2 separate regions of the Homo sapiens genome follow, and region 2 is linked to region 1. A link means that fine-mapping ties the variant in region 1 to the expression of a gene that starts in the linked region. Tissue or cell type: whole blood. Region 1 holds a variant in brackets; the other region holds the start of a gene. Each region is shown on its reference strand, or each on the opposite one. Region 1 overlaps SLFN14 (schlafen family member 14). Region 2 holds the start of FKBP8 (FKBP prolyl isomerase 8).

Region 1 (5,375 bases):
GGACTGGTGGAACTTGGCTCCAGGCCATGAGTTGAGTTCAAGTTGGATTCACATATCTCAGTGGCTGGTGGGCCACCCAGGGTACATTCTTTGTATGGAAACAGCAGAAACCCGAGAGAGTAAACCCAATGCTGAAAGTCCATGTACAGCCTCTGTGCACATCAGAACTACTAACATTCCAAGTCACATGACCAAGGCCACATTACAGGGGTGGAAAATATCTCTACCTCTAATGTTAGTAACTACAAAGGGTATAGATATAGAGAGGTAGGAAATATTGGGAACAATAATGTAGTCTATAGCAATATCTCACAAAACAATTAAATGGAAAAAGCACACATATACGTTATAAAGTTGATGGCACAACTTGATCATAACTGTGTGAAAATATTTTTCCATATCAACAAAGAATAGAAATAAATAAGCAAAAATGAAAAAATGTTACACCCAGATAACAAGATGATTTAAGAACTTTTTTTTTTTTTTTTTGAGACAGAGTTTCACTCTTGTTGCCCAGGCTGAAGTGCAGTGGCGCAATCTCAGCTCACTGCAACCTCCACCTCCCAGGTTCAAGCAATTCTCCTGCCTCAGCCTCCCAAGTAGCTGGGATTACAGGCATGCGCCACCATGCCCAGCTAATTTTGTATTTTTAGTGGAGACAGGGTTTCTCCATGTTGGTCAGGCTGGTCTTGAACTCCTGACCTCAGGTGATTCACCCACCTCAGCCTCCCAAAGTGCTAGGATTACCAGCATGAGCCCCTGCGCCCAGCCTGATTTAAGAACTTTTAATTTTGCCTTTCTCCATTTCCGAAGCTTCCATGATAATATTATATTACCCTTCTTTTTAAAAGTAAGTTTTAGAAGCTTCTCACAGTTTCTAAAGCTTCTCTTTTATCTTAGTTATTTCATTTAGTTAATTGCTTTATCCATCATATTAAGACTTTGTAGAAAACATTGAGAATTCTAAAACAACCAAGTTAGTCCATTATTCTTAGTCCCCACCAGTTCCTAATCTTACATTTGAATCTAATGAACTATCATCATAGATCCTTAATTTGACCTGTTGCCTAAAAACAATTGAGTTGCCTTTATTGTTCCCTTATTCTTCATTATTACAGTGTTAAAGATTATTCTCCACACTGACTTCTTTGAAATCTCTAACATTAGAAATTCATACTATCGAATTGAATCATTGTAGATTCTAGTTTTCTAAAAGCTACAAGTACAATTCAGCAAATATTTACTGAGCACCTGCCCTGTGTGAGGCACTGTACTAGTTGCTCTAGGGGAAATAAGGATGTGTAAGTGACTCATCCTCTTACTCTCAAGGAGCTCACAGTCTTAATAGGAAGAGAAATGTGCACACATTTTTTGAGGACAGAAAGAACAGACTAGGAGAAGGGTTCAATGGTTCTCAACCCTTGTGACATATTAGAATCATTTGGATTTTTTTTAAGAGATAGAGTCTTGCTCTGTAACCCAGGCTGGAGTGCAGTGGAGTAATCATAGGTCACTGTAGCCTCAAACTCCTGGGCTCAAGTGATCCTCCCACCTTGGCCTCTGGAGTAGCTAGGATTAAAAGCATGCACCACCATGCCCAACTAAGTTTTTAAAAAAATTTTTTTTGTAGAGATGGGGTCTTGTTATGTTGCCCAGGCTGGTCTCCAACTCCTGGCTTCAAGTGATTCCCCCAGACCTCAGCCTCTCAAAGTTCTGGTATTACAGGCACCAGCCACTGCACCCTGCCTGGACAACATTTAATAAATACCGATGCCCGAGCCTGTGTTCAGACACACTGAGGTTAATTAGTCTGGTGTCTGGCCTGATCACTGATTTTTTTTAAGTCGCCCAGGAAATTATAATGAGCATCCAGGGTTGAGAATCACTGAGTTAGTTATTCTACTTTCATCCTGATTGAATTGTTTCACTAGACTAAGAACTGACAAAGACTCTCAAATTCAATATTTAAAACAATTCTTTACAAATCAATTCTTTTATTAAAAATTATATGATGCATGCATATATTTTAAAAAGTCAAATGGTACTAAGGCTTATGACTAAAATATAGCAATTCCTTGTCCCACTCATACTCCTTCATACTCTGTTGACTTTGACTGTTTAAATTATTTTTATAGAATTCATACATCTCCCTACATCAGAATGTCAATGCACTGGCATCTTTTGCAAAACCGATTGCTGAACTTCATTTCCTCCTATCCAAAACTACCCTAAAGCCCCCAAGGAAAGGTAAAAAGGAAGAAACACCAGGTAATTAGAGCAGTAGGAAGCAAGGGAGAGGTTTTTCTTTTCAACCCGTGCCTAGGTACAGACTAGCCCTTCTAATGGGCCTAAGCAATTCAGAAAGGCAGCTAAGAGAGCTTCTCGAAACCCTGCCTGCTCTTCCACCTCTTGGAAGGCTGAGGGGCTTTATCTAAAATCATAACCAAAATTTCCACATGTCTCCTGGATTCAAGCCTCCCCAGAGTCAATCAAGTTATCCTAAACTTTTCTAGAAGTTAAAAACAGTTTGGAAATATGAATACTTCCAAAGCAATTTAAAAATCCTTGCAAAAGCAAGAGTAATTTGAAGAGTACAGAATTGGCTCAGCCATTTGGGGAACTGACTAGAAAAGGGGAACTTTGATTTCATTTCTAATATGTATCATATACATTGGAAAGTTTCACTTAGGGAGATAATAAAAGTTTAATTGAGGTAGTAGGCATTTGAAAAAGGATGTGATTGCCAAGTAAGGATTTCAAAGGTGGAGGGGACAGAAAAGGGTTTAAAGACTGAGAAAATGGCACAGGCACAGACCAGGAGTCGGGGATGTGTGTGGGTGGTGTTGGTGGTAAAGTTGCCACCAAGGATCCCCATAAACTCTGAGAGTTGGATTTAAAAATTAGCACCAAGTCATAATGGAAGAAATCAGAGATGTGCAAAGGCCCCTTGTAGGAAGACTACTTTCCAGGCCAGCGGCAGAGTATAAGGCATTTCTAGCCTACATGAATGTATTCACATACATAGAGGATAAATGTAGGCAAAATTTGTATATGTTGGGGGCAGTAAGGAGAGGGTTGGTGGTGAACCTGGAAATTTTAGAAACCAAGACAGAGAAAAAAAAATTCATCTGAGGGCAAAGAATAATGAAAAACTAGTCATCCTTAGCATTCTAAATTTGCTTTAGCTTGTAAACTGTAAACTAATTTGTCTAGTCCTTGTGATAGAAATATCTTTA[T/A]TTTAGAAATTATTGCAATCTTATTTTATATTAAGTTGGTGCAAAAGTAATTGTGGCTTTTGCACTTTTGCACCAACCTAATAGATATTGCAATAGTCTAATATAATCTGAAGATTTTTAAGATTTGAATCAAATTACCAGCTTCCCTTACTGTAAGGCTATGTTCATATAATTTGGCTTCCTATATTACTGTTGAGGGCACTGATTAGCAAAAGCATTTGACCCACTTATGACTATGGTCCTCACTATAAATTAACAGAGTAACATTTTGATGTATGCATTGGTCCTTTGTGAGCTTGATTAGCATAAAGCATCCCCAAGAGACTGATCTAGACTTGGTACAAAAAGGCAATCAAGTTCTGGACCTGGAAAGCTTGAGACCCATAGCCAGTATGAGGTGCCAGTCAATTGGCTACTTTTGAGACCTATGCAGTCAAAGTAACCAGCCTGGAGGGCACCATACCACCACCCAAAAATTATGCCAGGTGGGCTGGGGTGCATGAGAAACATGGGGAGATGGAGATACAATAAAGGATGTGGTTGGGAGAGCAAGTCAGGGCATATTAATGAAAGCCTTGAAAATTGGTTAGGTTTGAAGGCTGTGGGGACTCATTGAAGATATGTTAGCAAGGTATTACATAAAATCAGTTCTCTATTTGAGGAAAAATTCTCTGATGGATGACAGCTGGATTGAGTGGGAAAGCTGGAGACAGGGGACTAATGAAGTCTATTGTAATTGTATAGGTAGGAGGTGAAGGAAATTGTGAAAAGGCCAGTGGCATTGAAATAGAGTGGAAGGCTCAGCTCCAAGAGACATTTCTGTGGCTCCAGGCCATACTGATGTGCCTTGATTTCCTCACTTGTAATATTAAAATGGAGTCACTGCTACCTGTCTAGGAGAAAGGACTCTGCTCTTCCTGTCTTCCTCTATTATTTGTAATAATTTTCAGTAGGCTGCCCTCTTTTCATAAAGCAGGTAGAGGTGTTTAATGGCTCTTGAAGCAAAGCAGAGCTTATGAAATTCCTCTGACTGGTCACATTCTGGACTAAGCCCAAACACGACAGTCCTCTCCAGGCCTGAAAATTGCTGAATACTGTCTAAAACAATGTGACTTCCCCAAACACCGGTGGCCGGGCTAAACACAACCTCTGATGGTCTGTGGGTCTCAATTAATTCCATTGCTTTGAGTAGTGCAAGCCTATAGCGTCCTCTGTCCTCCCCTCTCCTGCACAGAATTGCTATATCTTTGGGCAGATAGCCACACTGGAACAGGCTGTGACATTTTCTTGCCACATAGTTAGCTATTTGTTCTGTTGTCAGATTAGTCTTTGTCTCACACACCCCAGGCAGAGCCTGGGCACACGTTGCTTCCTCATAGGCAGTCTCGCTGAACAATGCTAATGTGTCTGGAGACATGTTGGAGGGAGGATTTTCTTTGATCCTCTTCATTTCTTCTTTCATAACCTTCGCTATTTCCAGAGCACAGTGGATCCCACTGGTGATTGTTTTTCGAGGAAACTGAGCAGATGGAGGGGGAAGGCCATTGACATCTGCGTGATGGATTTGAAAAGGGTCAAGAAAAAGCCAGAGAATCCCATGGTGAAGGTTTTCACTTCCAGTCCCCTTCGCCTTTGGATGGGTGATGTTCTTAGCCTTCATGTACCAATTGCCATATTTGCTGCAGAAATTCTCAGTCTCATCCATCACTATGTGTTTAATCTTTAGAAACTCCCCTTGCATGAAAGTTTTCCTGGTCACAGCTTGGCAGGTGGTTTGTTGGCTGTAAGGACGGAAAAAACAGGGCTTGAGGCATATCAACAAAGAGAACACCAGCAGTCATTACTCTCTGGAATGGAATCAGAGGCTGATTCTCATCTGCAGGCTGAGTCATTGATTCAGTAGTGTGAATACCACAAAACTGTTCTAATTACAAGTTACCTGACAGACAGAATGCATAATTTTACACCTTGCTCTTTGGGGTTATCCAGTTAAACCTGCATGTGAAACTTCTGAAATGAACCCAGGTAACAGATTGTATTATGTCTATTAGTAATCCATTCCTACTGTTTGGCAATCCTGAAGACAAGTTCATTACATCTAAAGGAAATCTCAAAGTTAACTTACACTTCTTACTACCA
Region 2 (5,375 bases), not on the chromosome of region 1:
AAATCAGCCAGGCATAGAGGTGGGCACCTGTAGTCCCAGCTACTCAGGAGGCTGAGGCAGAAGAATCGCTTGAACCTGGGAGGCGGAGGTTGCAGTGAACTGAGATCGCACCACTGCATTCCAACCTGGGTGACAGAGTCAGACTCTGTCTCAAAAAAAAAAAAAAAAGTAGTAAGATTTTTATCAGTAGTGGTGGTGATATTTAGTAATATTTCTGTTCCATCAGTGTCAATATGATTGGAAACTATTGCTACAGTATTGTTATTACAATTGATAGTGGTAATGATATCTTATTATTTGCATGGGCACCAGCATTATTTGGTATATTAGATATCAGTACTATACTAGTAGCAAGACGTCTTCCACAGAAAACTAACATTTCTCTTGTTTTCAGTTGCTGTGATGGGGTATGTTGGGGGGAACATGTGGGGGCTCATGTAGTTTTCTTCTTGTAGGATTGCTCTGAGCATTTACAATACTATCACTACTGTGAACCAACCAGAAGGCTGAACAAAATAACATTCCTCTGATCCACTTGACCCCAGAACACATTTTTTGTTTTGGAAGTTGGGGTCTCGCTGTGTTGCCCAGGCTGGCGTGCACTCAGGACACATTTTTCAGAGCCCAAGCATGTGTCAGACAAATGCCAAAAAAAGATGCATTGATGGGGTTAGGAGCTGCCAGCGCCTGGCGTGCTGGCTGTGTGGCTCTGGGCAGGTGACTCAGCCTCTCTGAGCCACTGTTAGCAGATCTGGGAAACGGGGACACAGCACATTGTGCATGTGTGTGAGTCAGTGGATAGAGTACATCAATGTGAAGCATCTCCAGTAGTTGCCTCTGGCTGGTGATCACGGTGGTGACCACGTGACTTCCAACCCTCACAGCACAGATGGGGAAATGAGGCTCAGGGGACGAGAGGGCCAGGGCCAAGGGCACCCTGATCCACCTTTGCTCCTTACCCAGAATGTCCAGCCACTCTTCTGGGGCCGGGGCTGGGGCGGGCTCGGGCTCCATGGCAGCAAGGAACTCTCGGGCCAGGGCCCCAGGCTGCTCAGCCTCCTCCGCCGGGGGTTGTCCCATGTCCTCCAGCGGTGGCAGCTCACTCAGGTCATCCTCTTCCTCCTCTTCCTCCTCCTCTTCCTCCTCACCCTCTGCATCCTCAACCCCATCCAGTACCTCGAAGTCCTCGAGCGGTGGGACCCCGGCGGGCAGTGGGGCAGAGGGCTCAGAGGGTTCAGCACACGATGCCATGCTGCTGGGGGGACAGGAATTGGCCCTGGAAGTGGGGGGCAGAGATGTGGGTCAGAATCCTACACAGCCCCTCAAAGTCTCCACTGTACTGATTCCCCACACTGCCGATCACTTTCTGTGTAACTCAAGGGCTCCAGGCCTCAGTTTCCTCATCTATACAGTGGGTGTAACAACAACCCCAGCTTGTTGGGAGAAATTAACCCATGCATCAAGCCCTTGGCATCAGGCTCAAATAGTGTTAGCCATTATTAGAGCTAATTATTATTTAATGTTTACAAATACTCCAGGAAGTAGGGAAGATTCCCCTCAACATTTTGCAGAACAGGAAACAGGCCAGAGGGGCAAAGGCATTTGCCCAAGGTCACAGAGAAAGCCAAAGGCCAAAGGAGGATTTGAACCTGGGGCTTCAGGCCCTGTGGCTTTGCCTGATTATAAGCTGAGCGAAGGGTGCTGGGATTTTTGTGGAGAGGACAGCCTCCGAGGCCTTAGGGAAGCCATTTTTAGAGCCTCTAAGGCCACTGGGGGAAATTGAATCTTTTACCAGGGCCTCCCACCTCCAGCCTCTTCTCCAAAGGGGAGACCCTCCCCAAAAGCACCAACTGTAATCACCCAGAAACCCCAAGCGTTTTTTCCTTCCACACTCTGAATCTAACACTATCCCCCACAACCCCAACATCAGGGACCCTGGCCCAAATCCTTCCCCAGGAGACCATCCTCCTCTCATCAGGCCTCGGTCCCACCCCCTCAAAGCAGCCTCCTTTCCAGGAGTGGTCGAGGTCCCACCACATTCTACAGCCTCTTCCTTGCCCCAGACCTCCTGAACCAATAACCAACCCCTCCGTCCCCCAGGCCCCAAGCTCAGAAGAGTGTGGCACAGCCATCAAACCAGCCCGCCGCATCCCCTCCCTAACCCTCACCTGCCTGCTCCTCCCGGGCTCGGAGCCCCACTTTGAGAGACCCTCCCAGCCCCCACCCCCATAATTCCCCGCGCCCGCACAATTCGGCCTCCCCTCCCACCCCCCACCCCAACCACCACCGCCCCCAGCACGGGCCAGCTCCCCCCACAGCCGCTCCGTCTCGCCGTAAACACTCCAGTGTCCCCAGACGCCCCCCCCTTTCCGATCCCATAACACCCCACGCTCTCCTGACGCCCCACAGCCCCGGCCGGGCCCTCAGTCAAGCCGCGACCCAGGCCCCCAACGACCCACGCCTGTCTGACGCCACCAGTCTGGGGCACCCGACCCCCGCACGCCTCGGGCGCCCCTGGCCCTGCACGCCTCCATCGGGACCCCCCCACTGGATCCCCTTTGCCCCCAGTGACCCCCATCCCTGGCCACCCCCGCCCGGCCGCGCCCCCTCGGGCACCCCCGACCCCCGTGCCCCCCCGGCTCGCCACCCCCGCGGCCCCTCGCCCCGCCCATCGGCCGCAGCCCCCGGCGCGCTAGCCCCCGGACCAGCCTAGGCCAGGGCAGCGGCCCGGCCGGCACGGCGCCCCCAGCACCCCAGGACACTTGCCTCTGGCTCCGGGACCCCCACTTGGGGTCCTGCGCCCCCCTCCCCGCCCCCAGCCGCGGCCGCCGCGCCTCGGGAACCAGGTTCGGCCGCTTGGCCCCGCCCCTGCCGTGCCCATTGGCCGCCGCTGCCGCGACTGCCGCACCCGTTGGCTCATGCAGACGTCCGTCCCGGGCGTTGGCACCTCCCCCTTCCTGCTTGGCCCCGCGGGGCGTTCTTAAAGGGACCGAAGCCTCCCGGCTGCTGGGGCTGGGGCGGGGGCTGGGGCGGGGGCTGGGGCGGGGGCTGGGGCGGGGGCGGGGGACCCTGGGCTGGACCCCAACACGGGTCAGTATCGCGCAGCCTGTGCGACTCCTGCCTCTCCTCTGAGCTTCATCCTGACCATCTGCGAAATGGGGATAAACACCCCCATCTATGCACTCTCACCTTGGGGGCTGCTGGGGGCACAGTCCACTCTAAATGTTATTTCCTTAAAGAGTTCAAGCTTGACGGGCAGGGCAGCTCTGGGGTTGCTGAATGACCCATCCTGAAGCCTTAGTTACAGAAGTGAACCTGAGGGCCTGAGGAGGAGTGACGTGCCCAAAGGCATACAGAAACCTCCCTCCCATCCCCCACACAGTTTAATGTCTAGAAGGTTGCCTGGTGCATACTGGAGGCGCTCGATTACTGCTGCGCAGGCGACTGAGCCAGCAGGGCCACTGGGAGGAGTTCCTCCTCTATGCACTGTCTGCTGGAGGGTGATAAGGTCCCCATGGCTCGGGAAGAAGGTGGCATCCTTGATTAGCTAAGTTTTTGTGGATCTTGTTTTGAAACCGGGACACTTCTCCCTCCTTCACTCAGTTTTATTTCCTTCCTAGCAGTTACTCCTTCCAGAATTATCTTGTCATTATTTTGCTTGTGGTTGGAGGGACCATCCCTCACTCTGCTTCATCCTGGCAGAGATTTTTACCTGATTTGTACCCAGCACCTCCTTGAACCATGCCTGGCATCTATAGAAGCTCAATAAATGGGTAGGTGGATGGATGGATGGATGGATGGATGGATGGATGGATGGATGAGTCAGACACCAGCTTTTGGAGGTAGCTATCATGGAGGTGGTAACTGGCTTTTTGGAGATCACTTCTAAGGTTGGAGTTCCCAGGTTACCTCCTACAGGAAGCCCTCCCAACCTCCCCAAGGCAAGACCAGGTGCCCCCTTTAGCTGTCTTGGCACAATGAAGTTGATGAACGTCCACTTCATAACTAGTTTACTTGGGTTTTTTGTTTGTTTGTTTGTTTTTGTTTTTTGAGAAGAAGTTTCACTCTTGTTGCCCAAGCTGGAGTGCAATGGCGCAATCTCAGCTCACCGCAACCGCTGCCTCCCAGGTTCAAGCGATTCTCCTGCCTCAGCCTTCCAAGTAGCTGGGAGTAGAGGCATGCACCACCATGCCTGGCTAACTTTGTATTTTTAGTAGACACGGGATTTCTTCATGTTGGTCAGGCTGGTCTCAAACTCCCGACCTCACGTGATCCGCCCACCTCGATGTACCAAAGATTACAGGCATGAGCCATCGTGCCTGGCCTTTTTTTTTTTTTTCTTTCTCTTTTTTTTTTGAGACAGAGTCTCTCTCTGTCGCCAGGCTGGAGTGCAGTGGCGCGATCTCGGCTCACTGCAACATCCACCTCCTAAGTTCCAACGATTCTCCTGCTTCAGCCTCCTGAGTAGCTGGGACTACAGGCACCCGCCACCATGCCCAGCTAATTTGTATATTTTTAGTAGAGACAGGGTTTCACCATGTTGGCCAGGATGGTCTGGAACTCCTGACCTCATGATCTGCCTGCCTCGGCTTCCCAAACTAGTTTACTTATATCTCTGCCTTTTTTTTTTTGAGATAGGGTCTTACTTTGAAACCCAGGCTGGAGTGCAGTGGCACGATCTCAGATCACTGCAACCATGTCTATCTCCTGGGCTCACGCAATCCTCCTGCCTCAGCCTCCTGAGTAGCTGGGCCCACAGGTGCACCATCATGTCCAGCTAATTTTTTTTTTTTTTTTTGAGACAGAGTCTCGCTGTGTAGCCCAGGCTAGAGTGCAGTGGCGCAATCTCGGCTCACTGCAAGCTCCGCCTCCCAGGTTCACACCATTCTCCTGCCTCAGCCTCCCAAGTAGCTGGGACTACAGGCGCCTGCCACCATGCCCGACTAATTTTTTGTATTTTTAGTAGAGTCAGCGTTTCATCGTGTTAGCCAGGATAGTCTCGATCTCCTGACCTTGTGATCTGCCCACCTCGGCCTCCCAAAGTGCTGAAATTACAGGCGTGAGCCATCGCGCCCGGCCCAATGTTTATATTTTTTGTAGAGATGGGGTTTCCCCATGTTGCCCAGGCTGGTCTCGAACTCCTGGGCTCAAGCAATCCTCCCACTTTGGCCTCCCAAACTGTTGGGATTATAGGCGTGAGCCACTGCTTTGATTTACCTCTGCCTTGCCCTCTACACTGGCAGAGCCCCAAAGTCTGGGAAGGCTTTGTTCTTTCTCATTGTTATAGCTCTGAGGCTTGCACAGTGCCTGCCACAAAAGGTAGTGGTGGGGTCTCACGGAAATCACTGAGGAAGGAAGGGAGGTTAAAGGTGGTA

Evidence for each region. PIP is the estimated chance that this variant, and not a neighbour inherited with it, causes the effect.
Region 2: it holds the start of FKBP8, and the variant in region 1 is the best candidate, but not a certain one, in a credible set for the expression of FKBP8 in whole blood (TOPMed, PIP 0.53).

What each region holds. Positions count from the first base shown.
Region 1 is chr17:35,544,057-35,549,431 of GRCh38, forward strand. SLFN14 (schlafen family member 14) reads right to left here. Exons shown (of 6, transcript NM_001129820.2): 6 at 1-5,017. The coding sequence ends at 4,183. Among named protein-coding and RNA genes, the nearest start is that of SLFN12L, 9.1 kb to the left of the region's middle. The variant T/A (reference allele first, on the strand shown) is at 3,237.
Region 2 is chr19:18,540,720-18,546,094 of GRCh38, forward strand. FKBP8 (FKBP prolyl isomerase 8) reads right to left here and starts at 2,854. Exons shown (of 9, transcript NM_012181.5): 1 at 2,767-2,854; 2 at 960-1,276. The coding sequence starts at 1,251. RefSeq lists an enhancer at 607-1,107 and a silencer at 2,670-3,099.